Homo sapiens: one gene and its partners. The protein of the gene in region 1 interacts with the protein of each later gene in a biochemical or structural test. Each region holds a gene or a part of one and is shown in the gene's direction. Other genes may lie near its edges.

Region 1 (7,700 bases):
GGGCCAGCATCTCTACGGCACGTACCGCACACGGCTGCATGAGAACAACTGGATCTGCATCCAGGAGGACACCGGCCTCCTCTACCTTAACCGGAGCCTGGACCATAGCTCCTGGGAGAAGCTCAGTGTCCGCAGTAAGGGAGCCGCCCCAACACCCACCCCGTGCCCCACCCCACCCCTTCCTCAAGCCGCCCTTATCACAGCCGCTGACACTGAAGCTTGGCATGGCTTCCCCCCCACCGCTGGTGTGGAAGGCGTCAGGGGTTAAGTGAGGCTGGCCTGCCTCTGTGTCCAGCCTGGAGAGAAGCCAGGACAAGCTTCAGGGCTGCGTGAGGCTGTAGGAGTTTGGAGACACACGGGAATCATCCGGGTACACTCTTCTGCCAGACCCGAATCCCTCTTCCAGTGGGGCTAAAAAGGATTAGGAGGTTTCGAGAGAGGGAGTAAGTGGGGCTGGAAAAATCCCAAGGTTTTGATTTAGCAAATGACCTGCAACTCTCTGGAGAAGCGGCAGTTCCCAAGGAAAGCCTGACTTCTTATCAGCAGCTGGCTGCCCTTGTACCTGGCAGGGACTTGGGCCTGTCCCAGGTGTCCAGGGAGGAAAGAGGAGCAGTCAGAGCCAGAGTCACGGCCACATGTGACATTGGTAATGGGAGGGGTGGGGGGGAAGCAGAGCCCCTGTGACAGGAAACGGTGATGCTGCACCTGGTAGCTCCCATCCCTAGCACCCCTCCAGGGCCACAGCTTGCACAGCCCTCACAACCACCCTGAGCCCTGTCTGCTGGTGAGAGGCAAGCCTCAGGCTATGAATGCAGAGCAGGCATCCCTGCCCTACCCAGGCCTATCTGCCAGGGACAGCCAGGGTGCAGGGGAGGGAGGAGACTTGGGTGGGCAACTCCCTCCGGCGCAGCCCAGGCAGTTCCTGGAGGAGGCAGCATCTGAGGTTGGTCGTGGTTCTACGCACTTAGTTGCTGCCCTCTTCATCCTGAGCCTCCAGGGTGGAGCTTGAGGAATGGGAGTCCCTGGGTGGGGGCCAGTGTGGAATTTGCCCTGGGCCTGCATTTCGTAGGAGGCCTAAGCCCTCCAAGGTGGGGAGAGGCTTCATGCACAGCCAGTTCCTGTGGAGGAAGAAACCACAGGGTAATTTAACAGGGAGAGTTTGTGTAAAGAATTAATTACAACAGGGGATTGGAGCAATGAGGGACAGGCTAGCAAAAAGCAAAGAGAATGCCAGAGAATATGGGAAGAGCAGCTCTGAGGAGCAGCCGCCCACCTAGGGCTGAGATGGAGGCTGGGAAAGCCCTCGCAGCCCAGCTGAAATGGCTATGGCGCTTCGGTGATGGAACTTGCCGGAAATGCCCCCTCTAGGCATTGGGGAAGTATGTCTGCGGCCACTCCAAACCTCCTGAGGAGGGTGTGGCAGGGGGGGTGCTGGTCACCCCTTACTGGAGAAGTTGCCACCATCAGAGTTGGGGAGCCTTAGACCCAGTGCTCAACACACCTCCCTGAGGAAGGGGCCTCTAAGCCAAGAACTGAATGATGAGAGCTAGGCCTGTGGGGCATTGGTGCTGGGCAGCAGGGCTGTGCAGCAGAGGTAAGGAGGTGGCAGGCAGAGCTGGAACACCAGTCTGAGCCTTGTGGACCTTGGTGGGGACCAGGGTTTACACCAGCCCTGGAGCTCCTGCCTCCTCCCCATTCCCGACTGCCTGGCAGATGTGGCCGATGCCCCCACAGACCTGACTTCTCTCTGCAGACCGCGGCTTTCCCCTGCTCACCGTCTACCTCAAGGTCTTCCTGTCACCCACATCCCTTCGTGAGGGCGAGTGCCAGTGGCCAGGCTGTGCCCGCGTATACTTCTCCTTCTTCAACACCTCCTTTCCAGCCTGCAGCTCCCTCAAGCCCCGGGAGCTCTGCTTCCCAGAGACAAGGCCCTCCTTCCGCATTCGGGAGAACCGACCCCCAGGCACCTTCCACCAGTTCCGCCTGCTGCCTGTGCAGTTCTTGTGCCCCAACATCAGCGTGGCCTACAGGCTCCTGGAGGGTGAGTGCCGACCTTGTGGGGCCGCCCCACAGTGCCTGCTACTGCTGGTCTTGCTCTGCGAGCCCTTGACACAAGCCATCTGGTTTATTCTTCACCTTCATGCCATCAGTTCATTCAATATTCCAGAAGTACCTCTTGCATGCCTGCCAGGGGCCAGGTACTGTTCTAGGAGCTAAGGATATAACAATGAACACAACGGGTTGGAATCTTGCCTGCCTGCAGCTTTCATTCTTGTGGGGCAGACAGAGCGTCTGAGCATGCCAAGGAAATCAGGTGGCTTCTGGAAGGAGCTAGCTGGGGAGGAAACTGGGAAGAGGGAAACGCTGAAGAGGAGGGGAACAGACGAGGAGACCTCCATTCCTCTATCGTAAATTGGGTGGTCAGGGTGGGGGCTAGCAGAGCAAAGGTGGGAGGGTGCCGGGTAGGCAGGCCTAGCCCCTTGGAGGGCACCACAGTGTGACCCTCGTGTGCCTGGAGTGCACTGAGCGACAGGGAAGAGCTGAGGCTGATGGGGCAGAATAGTTCCTGGGGCAGGGGGCAGGTCTGGGAGTGGCTTGCAGGGCTTTCTCCGGAGGAACATGGGGAGCTATGGAAGACTTTGGAGGGAGGGAGTGCTGGCAGGACCTGACTTAGTTTTAAAAGGATTAGTCAGACTACTGTGTTAGGAATGGTTTGGGGTGGGAAGGTTCAGGGGCGAAGCTGGGAGACAATCAGAAGGCTACAGGAGAAACCTCTGAACAGGAGGATGTGGGGTGTGATGCCGGGATACGGGTGGAAGCCGAGGCATGGCGAGAAGCAGGCAGCTGCAGCCAGTCAGAGGGTGGGATGAGCTGGATCCCAGTGGAGAGGGGAGAAGGCAGCTGACTAGGTGCAGGGAGGCCCCATTTGACCATCAGAAAGTCAGGAAGTGGGGCTCAACCAGGTCACAGAGGCTGCACCGCTGGCAAGTGTGTCCTAAATTCACACTAACTTTATCACACAAACATGGCAAGAATATTAAAATCTCAGTAAAGGAAGACAAGCCATCACTTATGCTTCCCCAGATTCCTTTCATTCTCTGGGGCAGGGTTGATGGAGCACTTGGTTTTTTGCATGCTGCCCTTTTTCACTAAAAATTATGTGATTAAATTTAGTTTAGTGGGGGGTTTTTTGTAATCACACTCAACAGAGGAAAGCATTATATGATAAGCATTTCCCACATACGTAATTCATGCGCAAGGCATGGTTCTGCCTGGGAGGCTTGTGGAGTTGCCCCCGCCTCCTTGGGGTGGGTTGTGGGGTCTTCAGCGGTGACCTTCCGCCTTCAGCATGCCCCCTTTTCTGGATTATTTCTGGAGGACAAATCCGAGGTCAGGCTCGTTGAAGACTGTGTTGTGGTTCCTGGCCCTGCTTCAGGGGCGATGTAGTCTAGCGCGAGCTGCCATGCAGGGCACGGAGCATTCGCTTTTGTCTCGACATCCGGCCTTCAGAGGATGACCAGCCTGGCGACGCACTGGACAAGGAGGTGTAGAGTGGGGATGCACACTAGGCGGTCGGAAATCATTATGCGTTAATGTCACATCATACCCCAGATGTCCACTGTGTTTGTTTTCAAGTGGTAGAATCGTGGCTTTCTCACGTTCTCTAAAATGAACACATATTGCTTCCATAATTGAAAAAAAAAAAAACCTAACAGTTTTTAAAAAGCAGCCAAGGTCACCAATATGGTGAAAGGCCGTCCCTACTAAAAATACAAAAATTAGCCGGGCATGGTGGCGGGCGCCTGTAGTCCCAGCTACTCGGGAGGCTGAGGCAGGAGAATCGCCTGAACCCGGGAGTTGGAGGTTGCAGTGAGCCAAGATCGCGCCACTGCACTCCAGCCTGGGCAACACAGCGAGACTCCATCAAAAACAAAAAAAAAGCAGCCAAGGCCAGTAGCTGGCTCTCTAGGGCTGCAGTGCAGCTTGGGCTGAGGCAAAGCCACCCTTCCCCACACAAGGCCACTCCTGATCAAGGCCAGGTGGGCGGAGGGGTGTCCCAGTCCCTACTGGTTGATCAGGGTGCCTGGTCCTGGCTCTTCCCAACCAGCACGAGTGAGGACGCAGCTGCAGCAGGACGTAAGCACAGTCATCGCTGCAAACTGCAAACTCGTAAGCACAGTCATCGCTGCAAACTGCAAACTCGTGCTCCGAGCGCTGCCCTCCCCTGTGGAGCGGAGGAGGGGAGGCCTGGGGCCGCGGCGGTGTGCGCCCCGCTCTGACCGCAGAGCCCCCTTCCCGAGGAAAGCGGCTGGCCCGGTCCCGGCTGGTGATCACGCGGGGCCCCTGTCTGCTTGGTGCGCAGGTGAGGGTCTGCCCTTCCGCTGCGCCCCGGACAGCCTGGAGGTGAGCACGCGCTGGGCCCTGGACCGCGAGCAGCGGGAGAAGTACGAGCTGGTGGCCGTGTGCACCGTGCACGCCGGCGCGCGCGAGGAGGTGGTGATGGTGCCCTTCCCGGTGACCGTGTACGACGAGGACGACTCGGCGCCCACCTTCCCCGCGGGCGTCGACACCGCCAGCGCCGTGGTGGAGTTCAAGCGGAAGGAGGTGCTTGTCCGCGCGTGCTGTGGTCTACCCAGTGTCTGTCTCCGGCCACAGTTCGTTTCTCGGTCGGTTTAGTGTCCGTGTAGCCACCCAACCGTGTGGCCGACCATTCGCGCTTTCATTTGTCCTTCGCCTCCGTCTGCGCCGTCTGTCCTAGGGGGAGGGGAAGGGGGAGTCCTGCCAGCACCCAGCTGGGCCTTGCCTCGGGAGGCAAGGACCAGGACGAGGCCCGAGGGCTCGCGTCTGGGGCATACTTGTGCCGCTGCAGGCGGGCGCGGCGCGCTGCCCGGGCGGGGAGCATCTGCCGGGAGGGCACTCCCTCCCACCAGCAGTTAGCCCCCAACGGGAGGGCCCTTGAGTGACCACGAGCAGAGCCGGGGATTGGAGAAGGACGGGAAGGCGGATCACCTCCGGCGCCGCCCGCCCCGCCCTTCTCCGGCTCGCGCTGGTGGAGCGCGACCGCCACCTGCTGGGCCTCGGCCTTCCTGCAGCCGGCCCACCCAGCAGGGGCCGTGGGAGAGTGGGCGTGGGGACTGAGGTAGGTAGTACGTTGCCTTGTTCCGCTTCTCTGGGCACACCACGTGCAGGTTTGGCAGGGAAAGGGGGTCTGGTCGAAAGCACAATTTGTGAGTAAAGGCTATGTGGGCCTCCCTGGGGTGACAGCAGAGGCCTGGTGGGCAGAGCCATCCAGGTGCCCAGCGGCTTTCCTCACAACCCCCTCCAGCCTGGGGTAGGAGGATGCTTGGAACAGAGCGCTCTGATGTACACCTGGCCTCGGAGCTCGGCTCTGCCGGCTGTTCCTGTGTGACCTTGACCTGACCTTCACCCTGTGGGGCCCAGCTTCCTCAGGGGAGAGTGGAGGTGCTCATCCTGCTCTCTGGGGACCTGGATGGGACCTGCCAGCAGGGTGCCTGGGCATCGGCTGTAATTCTCCTTATAAGAGGTCTGCATTGTACCTGTTACACAGGCGAGGCTCAGTGGCTCAGGGAAGGTGACGGCCAGGCTGGCCAGTGACCCCGTGGGAACTTGAACCCAGGTCAGACTGTCCCCAGACCTGGCTCTGACAACACACATCTGGTCCACCTATGGGCTGTGTGGGACGTGCAGCATTCTAAGGTCTCTGGTTTTGGGGGGTCTGAGGGGCCCATCTCGCCTGCACTGACCAACGCCCTCTGCATCCTGCAGGACACCGTGGTGGCCACGCTGCGTGTCTTCGATGCAGACGTGGTACCTGCATCAGGGGAGCTGGTGAGGCGGTACACAAGCACGCTGCTCCCCGGGGACACCTGGGCCCAGCAGACCTTCCGGGTGGAACACTGGCCCAACGAGACCTCGGTCCAGGCCAACGGCAGCTTCGTGCGGGCGACCGTACATGACTATAGTAAGAGGGGCTGGTGGCACGGCCTGGCTAGGCCCCCAGGAAATGAGGTGCTCGCTCTTCATGGGCAAGCAGCACCCTACACACATGCACACCTGGCATGGCCCTCTGTGGCCCAAGCCACTTCCCCTCCACCCTCTGCCCAGCACTTCCTGTGTCTCTGCCAGGCCTGCCCTCCAGCCACCAGCAGGGCTTTCACCATGGGACCTCTCTCCCTGAGCTGATCCATGGCCGACCCTGGCAGGGCCCCACCACACCCCCCTGCTGACCTCACCAGGGCTCACCACCGACTGCAAACACACATGTCACCTGAGGCTTTCCTCCAGCCCCTGGCACTCCATCGTTGCCCCTAAGGCGTCCCAAGTGCTTACGGATTATTGCTCCAGCCTCAGCAGCTCTCTGCTAAACAGGCTGGTGTACAGAAGCAGCCCCGAGCCAGGTCAGGGCTTCTGAGCCCATTATCCTGCCTGACTGCTGACATGCCACCATGCTCACCTGCTTGCAGGGCACCTTTCAGCAGCGGCCTTGCTTCCTGCCTCCCTCCGCCACCTCCTGCAGATTTCTCCTGGGATCGCCTTCCAAATAAACCACCTGCATTTGGGGTCTGTGTCTGGTGGAACCCCAGGCCATGAGTCCTTCACCCCTTTCTGCCTGGCCTGGTCCTGTTCATTCCTCAGTCCTCCCCACCTCACCAAGCCTATGGAGGCCCCACTTGTCAGAGGGGAGACAGCCTCCTTGCCCTGGCACTGAACACCCTGTGTGCCAGAGTGCCCCTCCCATCATTGTTTCCACCACATGAGATCCACAGTGGCAGCACGCGGCAGGTACACCGATGGCATGACTTCCAGGGCTTGGCCTGCGGGGTCATTGGGTCTGCTGGAGGTTCCTGCAGTGGAGGGTAGTTCTGCCATGCTCTGGGGGAGCTGTCTGGAGGGCTCTAGTGTGTCCTTCCCAGGGCCTTGGTAATGTAGACCTTTAACCCCCCATGCCTCACACACACACACACACACACACACACACACACACACACACACCCTGTTACCCAAAAAACGAAACTCTGTAAAACATTTTAAAGAGGTTTATTCTGAGCCAGGATGAGTGACCACAGCCTGGAGAAAACACAAACCCAAGAAGCCTTGAGTAAGTGGTCCCCAGGTCCAAGGTGGTGGAGTTACAGTTTGCTTTTATACATTTTAGGGAGACAGGAGTTACAAGCAAGGACATAAATCAACACACAGAAGGTATACATTGGTTTGGCCCCAAAATGCAGGGTATCTTAAAACAGGGGCTTACAGGTTAGAGGTAGATGCAGAGATTCTTTAATTTACAGTTGGTTGAAAGAGTTAAGCTTTGCCTAAAGACTTCAGGTCAGTACAAAGGAATGTTAAGGAGGCCTGCTATGTGTCGCCTGATGCTATACAGGGTCAGGAGGGAAAGTAAACCACGTTATACCTGGGTAACTTAAAAAAAAAAGGTTTTTAACAAGATTTTATGGACCAGGCATAGTGGCTCACGCCTGTAATCCCAGCACTTTAGGGAGACCGAGGCGGGTGGATTGTTTGAGTCCAGGAGTTCGAGACCAGCCTAGGCAACATGGTGAAACCCTGTCTCTACAAAAAAAAAAAAAATACAAAAAATTAGCCAGGCGTGGTGGCACATGCCTGGATTCCAGGAACCTGGGAGGCTGAGGTGGGAGGATGGCTGGAGCCTGGGAGGTCAA
Region 2 (7,700 bases), on another chromosome or scaffold:
GTAATACCTATCTTTTAATTATTGTAATAATTAAACAAGATAACAATTGGAAAACACCTAGGGACTTTCCAAGGGGCCTGTTACATGGCAAATGATCACCTTGGAATAGTGAGTTGGGCTCCCCCTGCTGTTAAGAAACAGACTAGCGTAAGTGCGCAGGTCTTGATTTCATTAGCTTTATTTTGGGCCATCTCCCTTAGATGAATGAAAATTATTCTGTGAACTTTTGGCGGGGGTTTGTTTTGAAACAGAGAATAATCATTAATTTATCAGATATTTATTTAAAAGGGATTTCTGACTCGGTGCGTAGAATGCTTACTTTACAATTCTGCTGTTTGTCAAGTGTTCCTATAGTTTTTTTTAAAGGTATGTTAACTATTTTTCCCTTTTGGTTTATATTTGTAGGAATCTTTGCCTTTAAGTGTGCCCGTGCAGAAGAATTATTTAACATGTTGCAAGAGATTATGCAAAATAATAGTATAAATGTGGTGGAAGAGCCAGTTGTAGAAAGAAATAATCATCAGACAGAATTGGAAGTCCCTAGAACACCTCGAACACCTACAAGTAAGTACCCCTTTTCCCTTTCACATTTTGAATAACAGACGTTTAGTTGTAAGCTATAGATTGTGGGTATTTAATCAATAACACACTAGAAATCACCACTGGATAACAGAAGTATAATGGTTGTCAGTTTTTAAAAACAGCTGTAGGCCGGGCGCAGTGGCTCACGCCTGTAATCCCAGCACTTTGGGAGGCTGAGGCGGGCAGATCACTAGGTCAGGAGATCGAGACCATCTTGGCTAACACTGTGAACCTCCATCTCTACTAAAAAAATACAAAAAAATTAGCCGGGCGTGGTGGTGGGCACCTGTAATCCCAGCTACTCGGGAGGCTGAGGCAGGAGAATAGCATGAACCCGGGAGGTGGAGCTTGCAGTGAACTGAGATCATGCCACTGCATTCCAGCCTGGGCGACATAGCAAGACTCCGTCTCAAAAACAAAACAAAACAAAACAGAACAAAAAAACACAGCCGTAGTTCTAAGTACTTCAAATATTTAAAAAATGAAAACATTCAGTATTTCATATTAGGTAAAATATGGAGTTGGGGGTAATACTATTTGTGCTCTGATTTCTGCTGTCTTGGCAGAAAGACCTCCTATAATCCTCAGTACAGATTCGATTCTTACTCATTTTTATTCTCTCTGCCCCGCCCCCCTTTTCCTTAAACCAATAAACAAAAACTCAGCTCCAGGATTTGCTGCTCAGAACTTACCTAATGGATATCCCCGATATCCCTCATTTGGAGATGCTTCATCCCATCCGTCAAGCAGACATCCTTCTGTGGGAAGTGCTCGCCTGCCTTCAGTAGGGGAAGAATCTACACATCCTTTGCTTGTGGCTGAGGAACAAGTAAGCATGTGCTACTGTGTAACAGCAATAATGATTGTTCAGAGTTAGGGTATCACTGTGCTAATACTGGAAGATTTTATTCAGCTTGAAGTTTAACTTTATCTGTTTGTAAATTACTTTTGTAGTGAACAATCAGAGGAGATAGCATATATTTGCTGGTTTATGCTCAAATATATGCGGGTATTCAGGGGAACTTACCATTACAGTAGCTTGTGGGTTCACAGAAGAGGTACATCTATAGATTAAGAAAGGCATAACTAATGGTCAGTTCCCATTATAAGAATGTCCAATGGATTAAGAGTTTATGCTGCTTTTCATATTTTAGCCATTATAGTCAGTGAACTACGAGTAGGAAGGTAGATTTTGCTGTTAATGTTATGGAGTTATTTAGTGTTCCCGAGTATGCTAGTTTTCATGTGTGGAATGAAGTATCTGGTTGGAACCTCTGTATTAATTAGTTATACTTATGTTTTGTAAACCATATGTCACATTAAAAAGTTTTTAGTGTTTTTAAAATCAGTTTCTTTGTGTTCTTTACATAATGAGTTGTTATATTATTTACTGTAATTACATGAGTCTTGGTCTGTCGCCCAGGCTGGAGTGCAGTGGCATGATCTCAGCTCACTGCAACCTCCACCTCCCGGGTTCAAGCAGCTCTCCTGCCTCAGCCTCCCAGGTAGCTGGGATTACAGGCGCAGGCCACCACATCCAGCTAATTGTTTCATATTTTTAGTAGAGACCGGGTTTCACCATGTTGGCCAGGCTGGTTTTGAACTCCTGACCTCAAGTGATCTGCCTGCCCCGGCCTCCCAAAGTGTTGGGATTACAGGCGTGAGCCACTGTGCCCGACCCTTGTAAATATTTTTATATTATCTCCCCAAAATACTATTAAGCTTTTCTAAATAGTGATAATTTCTTACTTGGTGGCATTTATTTTATATATATGCATTTTACAGAACTCTTATTAAATCTAGTGGAGTTAATCTTCTTATACATTCAGATCATCAGTAAATAAGGATAAACTTATCTCTTTTCAAAGTCGTTATTTATTTCTGGATCATGTTTTAATGCTTTGAGAACCTCTAAAACAGCAGCAAAATGATAATCCCTATTTTGTTCCTGATTTTTATTTTTTACATAATATTTATCATGTTTAACAATCAAATATAATGTTGCATGTTATTTTATTTTATTTTTTGAGATGGAGCCTCACTCTGTTGCCCAGGCTGATAATGTAATGGTGTAATCTCGGCTCACTGCAACCTCTGCCTCCCGGGTTCAAATGATTCATGTGCCTCAGCCTCCAGAGTAGCTAGGATTACAGGCGCTCACCACCATGCCCAGCTAATTTTTGTATTTTTAGTAGGGACGGGGTTTCACCATGTTGGCCAGGATGGTCTCGAACTCCTACCCTCAAGTGATCCACCCGCTTCAGTGTCCCAGAGTGCTGGGATTACAGGCATGGGCCACTGCGCCCAGCCTGCGTGTTATTTTGAAGTCGTTATTCTTTTATCAAATTAGGAAGACATTTCTACATTTCTCCTTCTCTTTCCACCTTTTTATTAATAAAAAAACAGGTGCAAAAGTTTTGAAGTAAGAGTACATTTGGAGAGAAAGTTAATACAGTTAACTGTTGTCAATAAAATTAACTGATGTGGTCAGGCTTTTTTTCAGTTTTGTTTTTTTAAGTAAGTTAACTAATTCACTTTCTGTTTTGTTTTAGGTACATACCTATGTCAACACTACAGGTGTGCAAGAAGAGCGGAAAAACCGCACAAGTGTGCATGTTCCATTGGAGGCGAGGGTTTCTAACGCTGAAAGCAGCACACCAAAAGAAGAACCAAGTAGTATTGAGGACAGGGATCCTCAGATTCTTCTTGAACCTGAAGGAGTCAAATTTGTTTTAGGGCCAACCCCTGTTCAAAAGCAGTTAATGGAAAAAGAGAAACTGGAGCAACTTGGAAGAGATCAAGTTAGTGGAAGTGGAGCAAATAACACAGAATGGGACACTGGCTATGACAGTGATGAACGAAGAGATGCACCCTCTGTTAACAAACTGGTGTATGAAAATATAAATGGGCTATCTATCCCTAGTGCCTCAGGGGTCAGGAGAGGTCGTCTGACATCCACCAGTACCTCAGATACCCAGAATATCAACAACTCAGCTCAGAGAAGAACTGCATTATTAAACTATGAAAATCTACCATCTTTGCCTCCTGTTTGGGAAGCCCGCAAGCTAAGTAGGGATGAAGATGACAATTTAGGACCAAAGACCCCATCTCTAAATGGCTACCATAATAATCTAGATCCAATGCATAACTATGTAAATACAGAGAATGTAACAGTGCCAGCAAGTGCTCACAAAATAGAATATTCAAGGCGTCGGGACTGTACACCAACAGTCTTTAACTTTGATATCAGACGCCCAAGTTTAGAACACAGGCAGCTTAATTACATACAGGTTGACTTGGAAGGTGGCAGTGACTCTGACAACCCTCAGACTCCAAAAACGCCTACAACTCCCCTTCCACAAACCCCTACCAGGCGCACAGAGCTGTATGCCGTGATAGACATCGAGAGAACTGCTGCTATGTCAAATTTGCAGAAAGCACTGCCACGAGATGATGGTACATCTAGGAAAACTAGACACAATAGTACTGATCTGCCCATGTGAGCCTGGAAAGCATTGTGTTGTTTGCACCTTTGTGAAGTTTTTAAAAATGAAGATGCAAGTGCTTCATTTTCATTTCTAAACACTAACTCCTTTTATAGACTGATAAAATTTTTTTCTGAATATTTCATGTGCATCTTTAACTAAAGGGAATTAATGTAGAGCAGGTACTCCTTAAAGAACACTAATTTCATTATATACTACTCGTTGTACAGCAGCATTCCCGTTTTCACAGTGCCTATTTAAAATGAGAGTTGAAGTAAATGACATGCTGGTTGATTTTTATCAATATTCTGGACTTAACGCATACCTTTCATGTCTAAGTCATGGTTGGCTTTTAAAACTTTTTATAAAGCCTCTTGACAATGTACATTGCTAACAGGTAACTATAGGCTTTGAAAGTAATGCTCGTAGATTCAGTGTTCACAGTATGTGGCCTCCAGCATGTAACATGAGGAATCCTTTATTTCATTAATTAATGGCTTTTTGACTTGAGCCAAAACATATGTAAAGGAAACAGAAGTACCGCACCTCCTCTTACACCAGTCAGCTCCTTTGCCTTCAGTGTTACTAGAAAGCGGCCTGTGTCCATGAGTGTGCTTTGCTGTTGGTGCACTGAAAGGCAGGAAGGAGACAAGATTTTCTATTTACTCATCTCATGATGTCATTTGAAGGGCATGTCCAGATATCTTAAAATTATAATAGGCTCAAGAATCAGTCTCAGGTCACTTTACCCAAAAACATTTGAAAATCTGAACCACAATCTCCTGAAAGTTTTTCTCCTATAGATTGTTGACAACACATTGTTTTCTGGAGGCATTTGTGCCATTAGGTTTCCATTTATCTTCAGTTTTTTTCTTTGGTGTTTGGGATGTCTTATTTTGTTGCCTTATGTCCTTTTCAATTTAAAATGTTTGAGTTTGTATATAGTTTTGAAATTGGATTATGTGTTCATTGTTGTTTAGTTTGCATTTTTGTCAAATTATGGTTTTGAAGGTTCATTTGGAACTTACTGTTAGTCTGTAACAGGGTTGCCCTTGTCCAGTATTTATTTATAAGCTGTTTACTTTTCAAGTTGATAAAAACATTCTCCAATTCTAAATTTGCTTGTGTCCATAGGTGATCTCTTTAGCAAACTGAGAAAAAAAGGAAGCTACTTTTAACATGCAAAGTTCCCTCAAGGTGTACCGTGTTGTCTCTGTGGGCACTCTTCCCCAGCACTTTAGCAGTAATTCCCCCAGCTACACGCTGCAGTTGTACTCTGCCCACTCTAGTGTTCCTCAGCTCTGCTGTCCTTTTACTTGTAGCTGGATCTTTGATTATCCTTCGATTTCCATGAAATATTAATATTGTTGCCAGCATAGCAGGTACAGTGGAAGTCTTGTAGCAGTGAGATTGTATCATAATTTAGGATTTAAAATGAATTAAAGTTTATATAAACTGAAGAGTCTCCATATGTCAAACTCTTGGAAAATCAAAGATGTTCCAATTTCCTAAACACTAGAGAATACGAGAGAAGGTAGAGTGGAAAAGGTTAGGTAACCTTGCAAAATATTTTACTATTTTCTCTAAATATGAGGAAGTTTGAGATTATGATCTGGATCTACCAGATATAACTAAGGTTAATTTAGCATGAAAAAGTTTTAGTCATATTGGCATCCAACCTATTCAGTAACCGAATCATAGGACAATGATGGATTAGGAGAACAATAGAGTGGGATCATTATAAAGAAAATAAATTATTAAAGGTGTCTTTATCGTTTTAGTGCCATTTTTAGTGTCTTTACTATAAATCAATATCAGTGTATTTTATCATTCTATGTGCATAGCAGAATTTTCTTTTCTCCCTTTTGTTCCCCTGTGAACTTGGTGCTTATTAAAGTGCTCACTGTTCTCTTAAAAGAGAGCAGTGGTATAGGTGTGCAGTTTCCATGATGCAGGTTCCATTTTTAATATATTGTTCCACTTATCCTTTCTTCTGAGTAAATTGCTAATTGTGCCAAATTTATGTAATAGTTTTTGTAATGTGGAATAAGAATTATGATGGAACCATTGCACATTTTTTTCTGAAACAGCCAGTCAAGGCAGAACATTAATCTCCAAATGCAAGGGCTGATCTATTTATTCATTTTGGAGGTTGGGTACTTTATTCTTTCTTTCCGTCATCCTTTTCATTGTTTCCCCCGGATTCTAATTAGTTTTTATTTTTTTTAGATAACTCCAATATAATCATTACAGTTTATGCTTTAAATACTATGTGCTTTAAAAAGGAAAATGGGACCAATTTGTCTGCTAAGAATTTGATTTTAGGTACTATAAGAGTATTAGGAAAATATATACAACTGGTGTTAATTTCTAGATATTTTCTAGAAATCACTTGTGTTCCTATTTAATAAAAGGTAATTTAGAATACTACTTGTCCTTTGCAGTAGTTTAGTAATGGGCATTAAGCTGTGTCCTCGAAGGATGTACCTATTACTAGGTGCATTTTAGAATGAAATATTGATATTTTATTAGCATATAATTGTGGCCATATATCTCAGATTTTCTGAGGCAGATCTAATTTTAGATAATTCTGTTGGTAGACCATGTGATCCTTCTTTTTGGTTTTGGAAATATAATCATTGTTAATGTTTTCCCTCCAAATAGAATACTGTTTTATCCATACAAATCATAACAGCATCTATCCCATGCTAGGGTTGGAAACTGATATTGGTATTACTTGTGTTTTTTCTTAGTGTGTTTTATTTCCCAGTTTCATCTTCTTCTAAAAATGAAAATATGGTGCCTTCCCTCCCTCCAGGAAGACTGGCAAATATTTCCTTTTATTTACTGCTGCTGTGGAGTGATGAGATATGCACTTTACTCTTTAAGATTCAGCAAAAAGCTTTTCACTTCTCAGTATATCCAGAATACATCATATCTGGGACTTAGGAAAATTTGCCAAGCAATCTTTGTTTTTATAGATACTAATGTTGACCCTCTCCAGCGTTCAATGTTATAAATAGAACAAGTCAAGCTAGTGTTTATCTCCTCCCCCTCCCCAAAACTGTGGCACAGCATATAAAAATGTACCTCAATAATGTTCTATTAAAAATGGGACAGGGGCCTTATGTTTTCATAATTTCCCAACAATGTGCCGCCATATTTTTGCCTCAAGGTAAAGGTTTTAACAGATGAAAAAGTACTTCCCAATTCCCCCGTGCTATTCCTAACCTATAATGCCCAAATGTTTTGTGCAATGTGTAGTGTGTGTGTATAAATACATATATTCTTGAAATAGACATACCATCAGAGACATCATTCACAAGTAACTGATGTATTGGCATCTCATTCATATTTCTGATGTGTGAGGTATATGGTACTAATTACCTTTTCCTTGATGTTTGCCAAATTTGAATAAAGGCATTGGTACGAAATTACAGAATGTAAAGAAAATGTTTTTGGCTTGAAAAATTAACATATTTTATGACGTACCACAGTATACTCTGCCCAAACCAGCACCCTATCTATCTTTCCTGTTCTTTACATCCCTGTTCCCCATCCCTACTTCCTCATTTTTGGTATAACACAGTTCTTTTGTAGCATCATTATAATTGCAGTTCTATGGCAATTGGA
Region 3 (7,700 bases), on another chromosome or scaffold:
TTTATGTTTTACAGCATTTTGGATGCTAATGAGCAGTATACTTTCTCAAGATTTATTCTTTTTGTCTGTGTTCACGTTCAGACTTCAGAATATCTATTGAATTATGGTTATTGCTCATGGAGAGAAAAGGTCAAAAATATGATCAAGTAAATCTGGTCTTATTTGTTAGCATTGGTTTTCTCACCAGTTAATTTTTAAAATATTCTTATGGTATGATTTACAAAAGAGGCTGATTACATAGTTGCCAGAACACAGTGCAAACCAAAGTTTTAATGGAGGCTGCAAATATTGGTGAAGGATGCTGTACGGAATTGGCATGGGGACCCTATGTCCACAGTAAGGAATGTTAGCGGTATTAATCTAGGCTACATATAGTCTAGAACAGCATGCGACATGTATCTTCTAGGAATATGTGCCAGTCTCAAAGAGAGGTAGGGCATTTATTTTGTCTAGCACAGAGTAGACACTTGGTAAGTTCATGTTGAAATATGTGCTGAACTATATAGTGCATGGATGGTCTTGCCATTTATAACCTTTAGGAACTAATACAACAGCATTTATTAATGGAATCCAGACCATGTTTGGGACGGTTTATAATTAAATACAAAAACATTTCATGGTAAGCAGCTGTTCCTGGTGCCAAGGAATAAATGCTTCTTCAGATTTGGAGAAAGAGGAGAAGGGAACGCATTCTGCTTCTATTGCTTGTTGACCTTTGACCTTTCTTGGCCTCAGTTTCCTAGTCTGTACAATGAACACTATTTAATGTTCTTGGGAGCATTAAAGAAGATATTTGTGAAAATGCAATGAAAGTCTAGAACATTGATTCTGCTTGTATCATTTTCTTTAATCAAAGATGAGTTAGGATTGGTAGACGGATATAGGAATTATCTATTTCCTTCTCTTTCTATGTAGAAGTGTACAAAGGCATAAATGTTTATGCAGCTCCAGATTTTTTCAATGGATGAAACTTTTACAAATTATATACATATATGTGTATGTGTGTGTATTTTTATACATAGGAATAAATATATACATACAACCTATGTACATATTGTATAATATATAATATACGTATATTTATATATGTGATTTTTTAACAGGACAGGAAACATTCTAAAAACATTCCCATTCAAATGGGTCACAGATAAGTGGTCACCTTCATTTGAAATCCTAAAGAGTTTAAATGATTAAGCAATCAAATATGTATAGATTTATTCTCTTCTTTAGACATCAAAAAGCTTAATGAAATATAATTCATTTAACTCAAAAGTTTCAGTATCTTCACATCTGTATTCCCCAGCTTAATCCCCATTGTTTCCTGGAGGTCTCCAGCTGTGCCCTGGGTACTGAATTTGTTCAGGAATGTCGACGTTACTATTTGAGGGGCTGGGGGAAGGAGGGGAGCAGCTGTCCATAATTATTTGAGTAATCGATTAAATGCACTAAAAATTTCTTTTTAGGGGAGAGGCAAATCAGGCAATTTGTACAACATTAACCTGCTGAATGTGTGACTTAGATAGCATCATATAACAATTCTCACTTCGTTTCTTTCCTTGCAATGGAGATGATTTTCCAATCAATCATTGTCATGGCTTGCCCACAGTGCAAGTTTCAGAACGGAAACTCGGGTTTATTTATCTACGCACAATCCCTCAGTTACTTGCCTTTAAGTGACATTTCTGTGCTCTTGTCTACCAAGGACTTAGCAGCTTGGACCTCTTTTCTGACCTCCACTCATGTAAATTCTCCTGTCTATCCCACATCTCCACTTGGATGACTCACAGACCTGCTGCTCCTAGAGTCCTCTCCATCTTAGCCACTAGAGGTCCCAGCATTTTGGTTGCGAAGGTAAAAATCACAAGCGAACCTTGGTGTCATTTCACTCTTCTCCCCTCATCTCCCACCCCTACAGGCAATCCATCAGGAGATCTTGTGGGCTGTATCTTTGAAATATATCTAGAATCCGGCTGTCACCTCACGCTATCCACTGCTACGACCCTGGTCCGAACCCTCCTCATCTCCTCCCTGTAACATTGCAACAGTCTTCTCATTTGACTTCCTGCCTACACTCTTGCTCCCGCTAGTGCCTTCTCAATACAGTAAAGTGTTCCTTTGGAAATGTAAGAAAGGTCATGTCACCTGGCTGCTGAAGCTGTCAGAGGCGTGTGAACCAGAGCAACTCCATCTTGAATAGGAGCTGGGTAAAACAAGACTGAAACCTACTGGGCTACATTCCCAGACAGTTAAGGCATTCTAAGTCACAGGATGAGATAGGAGGTCGGCACAAGATACAGGTCATAAAGACCTTGCTGATAAAACAGTTTACAGTAAAGAAGCCAGCCAAAACCCACCAAAACCAAGATGGCCATGAGAGTGACCTCTGGTTTTCCTCACTGCTACGTGGCGCTACCCCCACCAGTGCTATGACAGTTTACAGATGCCATGGCAACGTCAGGAAGTTACCCTTGGTCTGAAAAGGGGAGGCATGAATAATCCATCCCTTGTTTAGCATATCATCAAGAAATAACCATAAAAATGGGCAACCAGCAGCCCTCGGGGCTGCTCCGTCTATGGAGTAGCCATTCTTTATGCCTTTACTTTCCTAATAAACTTGCTTTCACTTTACAGACTTGCCCTGAATTCTTTGCTGTGAGAGATCCAAGAACCCTCTCTTGGGGTCTGGATGAGAACCCCTGTCTGGTAACAAAACCATTGGTGACTTTCCATATACTGCAGAGAAGTCTTACAATGGGCCATGAGGCCCTATGCTGCCCCAGAACCCTCTCGTTCACTGTTTTCTCTGCTTGGAATATGCTGTTTCCCCAGTTACCTCCTCCTGGCTTGCTCTCTCACCTCCTTCAGCCTTTTCTCAGCTCCTACCCTCTCAATGAGGCCTTTAAGGCCTCCATCTATCTATCTATCTATCTATCAATCATCTATCATCTATCTATCTATCATCTATCTATCATCTATCATCTATCTATCTATCATCTATCATCTATCTATCATCTATCATCTATCTATCTATCATCTATCTATCATCTATCTATCATCTGTCTATCATCTATCTATCATCTATCTATCTATCATCTACCATCTATCTATCTATCATCTATCTATCTATCATGTATCTATCATCTATCTATCTATCTATCTATCTATCTATCTATCTATCTATCTATCTATATTTTTTTGGCGGAGTCTTGCTCTTTTTTCCAGGCTGGAGTGTAGTGGCGTGATCTCAGCTCACTGCAGCCTCTGCCTCCTGGGTTCAAGCAATTCTCCTGTCTCAGCCTCCTAAGTAGCTGGGATTACAGGCATGCACCACCATACCCAGCTAATTTTTATATTTTTAATAGAGACAGGGTTTCACCATGTTGGCCAGGCTGGTGTCGAACTCCTGACCTTGAGATCCACAAGCCTCGGCCTCCTAAAAGTGCTGGGATTACAGGCGTGAGCCACCGTGCCCGGCCTCAGACCACTCTATTTTATTTCTTCTCCCTCTCCTTTCCTTCTTTCCCTGCCCCTTTTTCTCCCTAGACTTATTACCCTCTCCTTCATTTATCTTTGTATTGCCTATGTACTGCCAAGGACATGTGAAGCTACATGAGGGCTGGGACTTGTTTCTCTCTTCTTTAATCATAGCTGTCCCCCAGTGCCTAGTGCAGGGCCCAGCACAGAGTGGGCATTTGATGAAGATTTGTGGAATAAATTAATGACCCCATCACTGTGTTGTGGCTTAAGAGCATAGGCTCTGACATGTGACTGCGTTAAAATCCCAACTCACTGGCTGGTTATGTGACTTCTGGTGAGTTATTTAATATTTATAAGCCTCCATCTTCTGTAAAAATATGGAGACTCTTACTACTCACCTAATAGATGATGATCATAAAGAGCTTAACACAGTGCTTGACACAGTAAAAACCCAATTAATGTTTATTAGGGCTCTCACTCCTACTTCCAGTGTGGTTAGAGACAATGACACTTAACTGGTTATTATTTCACTGTTTCTACTGCAATTGTTCATATCCTCAAAGAACTTGTTTTTTAGTTAGGAAAACAAACTTAGTACAAGTACCAAATGTTGCTTGGCATTGATGGTTGATACAGAAGGAATTTATAAGATTTCGCCTTTATAAGATTTTTTATGATTCTACACAAATGGTAGAGATATAAAATAAGGAGAAATGCCTCTTCATGTAACTCCAATTCGAGTGAATTCACTGGACTAGGAGGTATTTTTGTTAACTTGGGGACTGTTTTCTTTTGTGGTAGAGAAGAAATTTTAAAAATTGGTCAGCTCACGGCCAGGTTTTAAAAATAAACATTTTCTAATTCTTTCATTTTATAGTTTCACCTGACCTGGTATGCCACAAACGCTTTCATGTTTCATTTGAGGATTTTAGATTTAGATGTTCAGGAATCCATGCATTTTTTATGGTACCATGACAAAGTCATAATCGTAGTATGAAAATTATACAGATAGAATAAACTCATATACTCCTTTTTTTTCCTTTTGAGATGGAGTCTCGCTCTGCTGCCTAGGCTGGAGTGTCCTGGTGTGATCTCGGCTCACTTGCAGCCTCCATCTCCTGGGTTCAATCAATTCTCCTGCCTCAGCCTCTTGAGTAGCTGGGACTACAGGCACATGTCACCACAGTTGGCTAATTTTGGTATTTTTAGTAGAGACAGGGTTTCACCATGTTGGCCAGGCTGGCCTTGTATGCCTGACTTCTGGTGATCCACCCGTTTCAGCCTCCCAAAGTGCTGGGATTACAGGCGTGAGCCACCGTGCCCGGCCTCATCATATGCTATTGTTATTTAAGTATATGTATGCACATGCACATATATGCACATATGAACTCATGCAACTATTCAGTAAGATATGTGAAGTTTAGTTACTCTTTAAGAACAAGAGGCTTTGGGATAACTTTACCAGTAGGGAAATTTATGGCCAGATAGACTGCATATATATACATGCATCAGCTGGGACGACTCAGTTATTTTGGCTTCATTTGAATCAGCTTCATTGACATGGTTTCCATGTCAGAAGGGCTTTCCAGCTGGTATTTCAGTCGTCTTCATCTGATTGTCCATGTGGATGAGACGATTAATTGTGCATAAAGTCAGCCTTTACATCATCATCCCCAAAACTGATTTAAGCAGAGTGGCCAATTTAGTGACTTTGTATATAGACATAAACCAAATTAGTGATATGATTGTCCCCACATCTGCCAATGTATTTTTGAAATCATATTTATTAGAAGACTAGAAATATTTATTTTTAAAGCAGCTTTGTAATTTTTGTGGGGAATCGTTTGGTATTTTAAGAACTTAGTTTTCATTGGAATATATTTTCTTCCATTTGTTTTATCATTCCTCAAATATTTCTTGAGTACCTATTAGTGTTAACCACCTTAAATAAGGCAGATACAATCACCATCCTCAAGGAGTTGACAATTTAATTTTTGATTTGTATTATTAACAAGAGATTAATGTATTCACTATAGTTAAAGAGGAATTAATCTGAGTAACAGGTCAAATATTGAAGTGAAAAGATGCCTGAGGATATTTTTCTATTCTATTTTTGTGAAATGAGGAAGGGCAAATTTGATTTTTCTCTTACTCTAGGAATTTGATCCTAGTAGGGTGGAAATTAAACCTTTGGAGATTCTAAGCCTTGAAGAGATTATGGTGCGACCCCCCCGTTCCTGTGAAATTCAAAATAAAATTGTGAGTTTAGAAATGCCACATGATATATGTGAATGTTTAAATTAAAATAGCTTCTTTCTAGAATGCAGATGGCTACATTTTGGATAAGTATTTGGAAGCTGATTTTTGCAGAGCAGTTGTGGGGGCTGCCTTTATTTCACTAGTGTTCTCACCCTCTGTTTATGCCCTGGATCCCAGAGAACAAAATTGTTAACTGGTTGTCTTGTGTTCTTAAGCCGAGTTGTTAACTAGGCTCCAGTGAGAGGATGCAGGTGACTTTTCTGAGACAATGCTTTGCAGCTTGTATGAGATTCTTAGAGAAGTCTGGTCCTCCCTGCCCCAGCCTCTCCCACTTTCCACCTGCTATGCCTTCTTAAAGATTAAGATCAGGTTGGGTGTGGTGGCTCACGTCTGTAATCCCAGCACTTTGGGAGGCCGAGGCGGGTGGATCACCCGAGGTCAGGAGTTCTAGACCAGCCTGGCCAACATGGTGAAACCCTGTCTCTACTAAAAATACAAAAATTAGCTGGGCATGGTGGCAGGTGCCTGTAATCCCAGCTACTCAGGGGGCCGAGGCAGGAGAATCCCTTGAACCCAGGAGGTGGAGGTTGCATTGAGCCGAGATTGCGCCACTGCACTCCAGCCTGGGGAAAAAGAGCAAGACTTCATCTCAAAAAAAAAAAAGTTAAGATCAATATTTCATTATTTTAATTGAAGTTTTATTTTTAGATAATTGTTATGTTCATATGTAGTTGTAAGAAATAATATGGAGAGATATTCCATGCCCTTTAACCACTTTCCCCCCAATGGTAACATCTTTCAAATTTGTAGGACAATATAACAACCAATATATTGACAATGATACAATTAAGATATAGAACATTTCATCCCCTGGAGGATCCTTCACAGTCTTCTTATATAGCTGCCCCTCCTGCCCCTGTCCTCCATATCCCTAATCCCCTGACAACCACTAATCTGTTTTCCTTTTGTCATTTTGTCATTTCAAGAATATTATGTAAATGGAGTCCAGGCTTGGTGGCTTGTTCCTGTCATCCCAGGACTTTGGGAGGCCAAGGCAGAAGGGCCACTTGAGCCCAGAAGTTTGAGACTAGTCTCAGGCAACATAGTGAGACTGTCTCTACAAAAAATAAAAATAGAAAATTAGCCAGGTGTGGTGGTACACGCCTGTAGTGCTGGTTATTTGAGAGGTTGAAGTGGGATGATCACTTGACCCTGGGAGGTTGAGGCTGCAGTGAACTCTGATCATACTACTATACTTCAGCCTGAACGACAGAGCAAGATGAGACTCTGTCTCAGAATTTTTTAAAAAGAATATTATGTAGGCTGGGCATGATGGCTCACGCCTGTAATCCCAGCACTTTGGGAGGCCGAGGCGGGCAGATCACAAGGTCGGGAGTTGGTGACCAGCCTGATCAACATGGTGAAACACTGTCTCTACTAAAAATACAAAAATTAGTCGGGCATGGTGGAGAGCTACTCAGGAGGCTGAGGCAGGAGAATCACTTGAACCCGGATGGCGGAGGTTGCAGTGAGCGGCGGAGGTTGCAGTGAGCGGCGGAGGTTGCAGTGAGCTGAGATCGTGCCATTGCACTCCAGCCTGGGTGACAAGAGTAAGACTCCGTCTCAAAAAAAAAAAAAAAAAGAATGTAATGTAAAAGAACCATACAGTATGTAATGTTTGGGGATTGGCTTTTTTAAAACTCAATATAATCCCCTGAGATTCGTTCAGGTTGTTGTGTGTATAAGTTTGTTCTTTTTTCTTGCTGAGTAGTGTACCATGGTGTGTATGTACAATAGGTACCGTAGTTTGTTTAGACACTCACCTGTCGAAGGACATGGGTTGTTTCTGGTTTTTGGCTATCATGAATGAAGCTGATATACTCATATAAGCATTTGTGTAGAGGTTTTCACGTGAACATACGTTTTCGTGCCTCTAGGCAAATGTCCAGGAGTGCAATTGCTGG
Region 4 (7,700 bases), on another chromosome or scaffold:
CATCACTGGACACAAGGAGACACGTGTCTGCCTCCTAATTCCCAAAGAAGCTGTTGAGTGAGGGCACCTCTGTTGGTGGGTACTTTTTCTCCACGCCAGGGGCTGTTGGCCTTCATGTTCGGCCTCCTGTTGGTGATTACCTGTGGCACTGGCAAAGAGACTGTTTCCAGGCAGGCACAGGTGAAGGCTGCCTTATGCCAAAAGGGCCACTGGGGCCACTCTTCCTCGGAAGAGCAGAACCGTGGGCACAGCAGATGTGAAGCAGTTCTCCATATGTGGCTGTGTGTGCGGGTGGCAGTGGGATGGCCACGTGCTTGTGTGTATGTGATATCGTGTATGTTTTGTGTGAGACAGCATATGTGTGGGAGAGACCTCGTGTGAGAGATGCTGTGTCAGAACTCTAAGACATTGTGTGTGAGAGTGTGTGTCAGATGCCATGTGTGAGACACCAAGACACGGGTATGTGATACTCTGTGTATATGTGAGTCTGTGTGAGAGACACTGATACTCCAAGACATTGTGTGTGTGTGACACTGTGAGACACCAAGACAGTATATGTGCGAGACAGCCTATGTATGTGACAGTGTGTGTGTGAGACACCATGAGAGACTGTGTATTTACTGTGAGAGACTGTGTGAGAGACACGTGTGAGACACTGTGTATATGACACTATGTATACGTGAGACTGTGAGACACTATGTGTATGTGACACTGTATATGTGTGAGACCGTATGAGACAGTGTATATGACACTGTATATGTGTGAGACTGTGTGTGTGAAACACTATATGACACTGTATATGTGTGACACTGTATATGACACTATATGTGGAGACTATGTGTGAGACACTATGTATATGTGACACTATGTATGTGTGTGACACTGTGAGAGACACTGTGAGACACCAAGACAGTATATGTATGAGACACCCTGTGTGTGTGACACAGCGTGTGACTGTGTGAGACGTGTGTGAGGCACTGAGACTGACACTGTGTGTGAGGCTGTGTGAGAGTCAGTGTGTGTGATAACTGTGTGTGTATCACCGTGTGTGTGTGTGAGAGAGGGAAGGAGAGAGAGGGAGGCAGGTCAGAGGGAGTCAGGTGTCCTTGGCGAGAGTGGCAGCAGCCTGCCTGGAGGGACCCTGGGATGGCCATTTCAGCACCTAAGGGGTAGCCTGCCCGGGTGAGTCTCCAGTCCACTGTGACTCAGTCATTGTGCCTGTGATCCCCACCCTCCATCTGCTTGCTTCCCCCCCATTTGTCTTCCCCAGCCCCCTCCGCCCCTCCCCAGAAGGTGATGTGTGTGAGCATGGGCTCCACCACGGTCCGGGTAAGTTGGGTCCCGCCGCCTGCCGACAGCCGCAACGGCGTTATCACCCAGTACTCCGTGGCCTACGAGGCGGTGGACGGCGAGGACCGCGGGCGGCATGTGGTGGATGGCATCAGCCGTGAGCACTCCAGCTGGGACCTGGTGGGCCTGGAGAAGTGGACGGAGTACCGGGTGTGGGTGCGGGCACACACAGACGTGGGCCCCGGCCCCGAGAGCAGCCCGGTGCTGGTGCGCACCGATGAGGACGGTAGGCAGTGCCACCGGGGCGGGAGGGGAGGCGTTCTGCCTCAGACACCACCCACCAAGCTCCCCAGGGCCTTCCTTTCCTGAACACAGGCCCAGGTCAACTCATCTTTCTGGTTCAGGTGTAATGGCCTAAAGTGGGGGGATGTCACTTACGGGATAACTGAGGCCCAAATCCCAGCCTTTGGGGCTGTCTCCAAAGCAGCTGAAACCTTCACAGGCTAAGATGGGAGAAGCAGCCCTGTCTAAGATTTGAAAGGTCAAGATTGGGCAGATTGGTGTAAAAGATACTCAAAGTAGAATCAGCAAGACTCCACGTTGGCTGGACATTGGCATGATTGGGGCCTAGGAGGAGTCAGGACAGGTTGTGCTGACTAGGGGTGGTCAAAGACCTGGTGCCCCACCTCCACCTGTTCCCCCATGTCGACCCTCCCCACCAAGTGAGAGGCCTGGGCCAGAGGGGTGGGCAGGGCCAGTCCTGGGCTCTTACCCGTGGCGGGCAGAGGGAGCCTTCCGTGTGCCTCACCAGGGACAGATGATCTAAGGAAACTGTATCAGGGCCTTTCCTGGGGGAGTGGGGTGCTGAGGCAGGACCCTCAAGTTTGCTGTGCCCACCTGAGCTAGGGTTGATACCTCCAGGCCTGACTTCCTTCTCTACCTGACCCCCCAGTGCCCAGCGGGCCTCCGCGGAAGGTGGAGGTGGAGCCACTGAACTCCACTGCTGTGCATGTCTACTGGAAGCTGCCTGTCCCCAGCAAGCAGCATGGCCAGATCCGCGGCTACCAGGTCACCTACGTGCGGCTGGAGAATGGCGAGCCCCGTGGACTCCCCATCATCCAAGACGTCATGCTAGCCGAGGCCCAGGTGCAGCATTGGGTGGTGGTGGGGTGGCAGGGTGAGCACAGACCAGCATGCACAAGCTCCCTTTTGGGGCCCAGATATGTCCCTCTTCCCCTGCCTGCCCTCAGCAGTGCTGTGACTGCCTTTCCTTGGTTGTGAGACCCGAGATGCTTTGCAGCATCAGGGGTTAGGCTGGGGTTTTTTGGGTGTGGGTTTTTTGTTTGTTTGTTTGTTTTGAGATAGAGCTTCACTCTTGTCGCCTAGGCTGGAGTGCCTCCTGGGTTCAAGCAATTCTCCTTCCTCAGCCTCCCGAGTAGCTGGGATTACAGGCGTCTGCCACTGCGCCTAGCCAATTTTCGTATTTTTAGTAGAGACAGGGTTTCACCATATTGGCCAGGCTGGTCTCGAACTCCTGACCTCAGGTGATCCGCCTGCCTCAGTCTCCCAGAGTGCTGAGAATACAGGTGTTAGCCACTGTGCCCCACCAGGTCGGGGTTTTGAGATGTGCCTTTCCCCTAGACAGTGCTGGGCTGGCATCCACTCTTCCCACAGAAAGGGTAGAGAGAGTGCTCCAGGGCTGTCTTACCCCACTGGCGGCCATGGGTCCGTGGTTGCTGCAAAGCTCTGTGAGTAGCCAAGTAGAGTGTTGCCCTGCTCCTGGCCCTGCAGGGAACGATTCAGCCCCTGATGTTCACCCTCAAGAGCTAGGCCTGCTGGCCAGCCTCACACCTCCCTCTGTGCACATCTGTCTTCCTGGGAGGATGGTCCTGCCCTTGAGCTTGGGGTGAGGTCCCTGGGGTATTCTGAACACTGGTTGCTATTCAGATGAAGAACTTGGAATGCTGGGGGGTTATGAGAGTGGTATGGAATTATTCAGCAAGTAGGTGGCTGCTGCGCTTGGATGAGAAGCCATGTCTGTGGACCCCTAGGAAAGGGCCACAGTTGCTGTCATGAGCCCCCTCCCAAAAGACCCTGCTGGAGAGTCACAACACCTGGTGTGGTGCTCTCAAGGTCTCCCTATCCAGGAGCAGGGCCTCCCCATTGAGCCTCTCACCTCTGCCTGGGTGGAGAGCAGGGGTGCGTGTACCACTCAATGCTGTACACACTGTGCAGAGGGGTGGGGTCACCCACACAGACAGGAGCCTTATTCCTCCAGCTGGGCTCAGCCATCTGAAGCAAAATTCTTTCTGCCCAGAGGGTGCTCTCTTCCCCCTCTCAGCCTGCCCAGTGCTAAGGCATCCGGGGTGGAGGAGGCAGGCATGTGCACCCACCTGCATTCCTGGGGCAGGTTGAGGGCTCCTTGTGGAGCCTCAGTGAACACACCTACCCAGAAACATCCCAGGAATGGGTTCCCCTAGCCCCTCCTCTCTGAGGGGGCCAGTGGCCACAGCTGTGGCCAGTGGGGTTCCAGAGAAGCCACTTCAAGTGCCCCCTTCTGGTCCCAAGAGGTTCGGAAGGGAGCTGGGCCAGAGGCTCAGGGACGCTGCCCATTTAGTCTCAGACATCCCATCATGGGGGCGGTAACTCGAGTCTGGGCTCCCGGAGGACACTGAAGATGGAGGCCTGCTCCGTAGCCCTCTCAGGACTGGGTCATTCTGTTCCTCGCCAGTGGGAGAGCAGTGGGGCCTGGTCCCGAGCGTGGCCACAGGGCCCAGCTGTCCCTGTGCTTCTGTCAAGGGCGGCACATTCTGTCCTTCACGCAACAGCACCATCCCCTCAGCTCATCCCCCATCATGCCTGAAGGAACTATGTGGTGCAGGTTCCCACCCCCAGCCTGGAAGTGTGGAGCCAGACCTGTCTCCTTTTACGTCAGATTCCATCTCCCTGCCTCCCTTTTTCCCCTCTCGTGGCCTGCATTTCTCTCTCCTTCTTGGAGTCTCTGTTTTTGTCTTGCTCTTTCTCTTCTCTCTCCTCCTTCCTTCCCTCCTCCCCCTGCCATTCCTCTGACCCCTTTCCTTCATCTCCATTTGGTTTCATCCTCCGTCCTTCCCTTCTTTCTTGCTCTGCCTCTAGCGCAGGACAGGGTCCATGTGATGTGAGAACCTCCACGCCAAGGCTTGGTTGGGACAGCCCAGGTCTCCCCGCAGGCAAGGAGACTGGAAGGGACGTGGGCCCAGCCACACCCTATAAAGTGGCCATGCACTAAGGACCTGTCCAGAGTCTCCTCTCATATTCTGTTCCATGCTTCTTGCAAGGACTTTCCAACAGAGTGTCCCAGGACAGGAGGAACTTAGGCCACCCAGCATGGAGGCCAGTGGACAGAGGCCAGACCGGCACTGTGGGGGTGCTTGGGCTGGAGGACCCCAGGTACTTCCGGCTTGGAGACATCCTGGACCATCTCCCTGTGATGTTTCATGGGGCCTCAGAATGGAGACCTCACAGTCCCTCCACCTGTCCATCTAGAATATCTACATGCACCAAAGGCCCGCAACACTGCCAGCCCCGAAACATTCCTTCCTACCTTAATCCTCAGACACCCCGAGGAAGGAACGGGTATAGGTGATTTCCCGTGCCTGTGGGCTACAGCCCAGGCTCTGAGCTTGGCACTCACAGCCTTCATAGTCTTGCTGACTGGCTTGCCCTTGGGCCCACCCTGGCCATGTGCCCTGTTCACCCCCAACTCTTACTGTTGTGGGACACTTCTCATGCCTGGGGTGATTGTGTAATGTATGATCACATCTGGGATGCTTTGGCGGGTGGAAGGAGACACTGAATAGTCAATTCCATGGCAACAAGCACAGGCCAGGACTGTCCGAGGCAAACCAGGGCATATGGGCACCCCATTCACCCCTCAGTGTCTTCCTTTCCCTTGGCCTGAGCTGTTGAACCCACCCTTCTTGTCTGGCAGCCTCTCCCTCCCAGCAAGCCCAAAATTGTCAGAGCATCTGTAGCTGCTTTGTGTTCTTAGGGCCTTCTGTCAGCGGGTCCTCTCCCTGCAGGCTGCCTGCCCTCCCTGTCTCCCTACCCTCCTCAGCCCTGGCACACCCAGTTGGTGCTCAGTGAGGCAGGGATTCAAATCTTTGAACCGGGAGTTGTTCTGGGGTGCTACCCCCATGGGTACTTTGAGGCCCAAAAGCCCTCCCTCTGTCCTCCCTGGGCAAGGTCCCTTCCAGGCCAGGCCCTCTCCAGGTCAGAGTCCTTCACCATCCTGTCTCCCTTTCTCTCCCTCTCCCGCGGTCAGTGGCGGCCAGAGGAGTCCGAGGACTATGTAAGTAACAGGTGTGCGAACGCGGACAAGACATGGGTCAAGCTGGGCTCGTGGGACGCTCCTCCTCTCCCTCCTTTCCTGCTAGCCTGCACTGCCAAGATCCACAGGGCTCTAGCCACATCAGGAGAAAATTGGCGTTTAGACACAAGCACTGAGCTGAGCAGCGATTGGCATTTCCTCTAATCCTTACTTCTTGCCTGTCGAGCAGCAATTTGAGGCCAGTGTTCATGATCGACCAGGGCCTGGCCCCTGCCCCGGCCAGACAGGGATGGAGTTAAATCCAATCCTGATCGTTAGGCCTTATTGATCCCTGGAGTGAAAAATCACCTGCTTTAGGGCCCAGGCTGGGAGGGCTGTCTGGAGAGTCGGATTCTGGCATTGGTGCATTCTGGAGCCCCAGCCCTGGGAGACCCTCCAGCTGTGGCAGGAGGGGTCCATGAGGGGGTGGTGGCAGCTGCAGGGGCCCCACTCAAGGCCAGAGCTGGAGGGATACCAGGGTTGATGACGGCTCTGTTCCCACTGCACGGTGGTCCCTGCCCTGCTTCCCACTCTTCTCTCTGTGTGGTGTGGCTTGACCTCCCATGGTGTTTCTCCGCATGTCCAGAGATGATGCCTTTGCTGCAGATGGGTATATGGGCAGGGTCTGCCAAGCGGGGAGGACATTGCCCTGGCTGCTGTCTCAGGCATCACTGAGAACAGATGTGGAAGCCAGTTCCCCAGGTGTGGAGGTTTTCTTATTCTCCTAGCCCCTCCCCTGCCTTTCTCAAGAGGTATTGCAGGGTATAGACATTCACAGAGTTAGTGGCCTATATGGGGGCAGCGGAGTCCTGACTGGGTCCTATAGGATGGCACCTTAGCCCATCCTGCCACCTTGCTCTGTCTGTGCATGCATGCACTGGTGTCCACAGGCAGCCTTACGCCTGCTTATGCAGGAGCTGTAGGCTGTGTGCGTGTGGCTGCCAAGAGCCACGCAAGGTGCTGGGTGCGTGCGAGGCTGTGCCCTGTTGATATCCTCAGTCTCCGTTCACAGCACAGTGGAGTGAGGGAAACAGTCTGGCCCTTTGTTCTTGTCTGAAAAGAATAATGAGCTGTCTGCCCCAGGCGTGCGGCTCCTGGGATGGGCGGGGTCCTCCCAGGCCTGCATCCTACCTGCCTGCTTCCTCTCCAGCAGAGGCCACCATTGTATAGCCCCACCTTCCACAACCCCTGGCCTTGTGTGCCCCGGGGCTCCCCTCAGGCTAGGGTCCTGAGGTCCCTGACAAGGTCTGGCCTCTCCCTGCATTCTTGTGATGGGAACGAACCCCTCCTCCTCCCTCAGGAAACCACTATCAGCGGCCTGACCCCGGAGACCACCTACTCCGTTACTGTTGCTGCCTATACCACCAAGGGGGATGGTGCCCGCAGCAAGCCCAAAATTGTCACTACAACAGGTGCAGGTGAGTGAGGGGTCAGGACGGACCTGAGGGTGGGGCAGCAGGAGGGCAGCGCCAGAGCCCAGCCCGTGGTCCTTCAGTCCCAGGCCGGCCCACCATGATGATCAGCACCACGGCCATGAACACTGCGCTGCTCCAGTGGCACCCACCCAAGGAACTGCCTGGCGAGCTGCTGGGCTACCGGCTGCAGTACTGCCGGGCCGACGAGGCGCGGCCCAACACCATAGATTTCGGCAAGGATGACCAGCACTTCACAGTCACCGGCCTGCACAAGGGGACCACCTACATCTTCCGGCTTGCTGCCAAGAACCGGGCTGGCTTGGGTGAGGAGTTCGAGAAGGAGATCAGGACCCCCGAGGACCTGCCCAGCGGCTTCCCCCAAAACCTGCATGTGACAGGACTGACCACGTCTACCACAGAACTGGCCTGGGACCCGCCAGTGCTGGCGGAGAGGAACGGGCGCATCATCAGCTACACCGTGGTGTTCCGAGACATCAACAGCCAACAGGAGCTGCAGAACATCACGACAGACACCCGCTTTACCCTTACTGGCCTCAAGCCAGACACCACTTACGACATCAAGGTCCGCGCATGGACCAGCAAAGGCTCTGGCCCACTCAGCCCCAGCATCCAGTCCCGGACCATGC

Evidence for each region.
Region 2: the proteins of RET (region 1) and FRS2 form a complex in vitro, tested with the Homo sapiens proteins (one study listed by BioGRID).
Region 3: the proteins of RET (region 1) and DOK5 form a complex in vitro, tested with the Homo sapiens proteins (one study listed by BioGRID).
Region 4: the proteins of RET (region 1) and PTPRF form a complex in vitro, tested with the Homo sapiens proteins (one study listed by BioGRID).

Annotation. Positions count from the first base shown.
Region 1 is NC_000010.11:43,100,589-43,108,288, forward strand, and holds part of RET (proto-oncogene tyrosine-protein kinase receptor Ret isoform a precursor), read left to right. Parts: coding exon 1-134; intron 135-1,753; coding exon 1,754-2,041; intron 2,042-4,176; exon of another isoform or gene 4,177-4,363; coding exon 4,364-4,605; intron 4,606-5,787; coding exon 5,788-5,983; intron 5,984-7,700. UniProt on the Homo sapiens protein: Receptor tyrosine-protein kinase involved in numerous cellular mechanisms including cell proliferation, neuronal navigation, cell migration, and cell differentiation in response to glia cell line-derived growth family factors (GDNF, NRTN, ARTN, PSPN and GDF15).
Region 2 is NC_000012.12:69,570,871-69,578,570, forward strand, and holds part of FRS2 (fibroblast growth factor receptor substrate 2), read left to right. Parts: intron 1-405; coding exon 406-564; intron 565-1,247; coding exon 1,248-1,411; intron 1,412-3,134; coding exon 3,135-4,085; 3' UTR 4,086-7,700. UniProt on the Homo sapiens protein: Adapter protein that links activated FGR and NGF receptors to downstream signaling pathways.
Region 3 is NC_000020.11:54,477,993-54,485,692, forward strand, and holds part of DOK5 (docking protein 5), read left to right. Parts: intron 1-7,700.
Region 4 is NC_000001.11:43,596,478-43,604,177, forward strand, and holds part of PTPRF (receptor-type tyrosine-protein phosphatase F isoform 1 precursor), read left to right. Parts: intron 1-1,270; coding exon 1,271-1,576; intron 1,577-2,242; coding exon 2,243-2,436; intron 2,437-5,593; coding exon 5,594-5,620; intron 5,621-6,938; coding exon 6,939-7,056; intron 7,057-7,133; coding exon 7,134-7,700. UniProt on the Homo sapiens protein: Possible cell adhesion receptor. It possesses an intrinsic protein tyrosine phosphatase activity (PTPase) and dephosphorylates EPHA2 regulating its activity.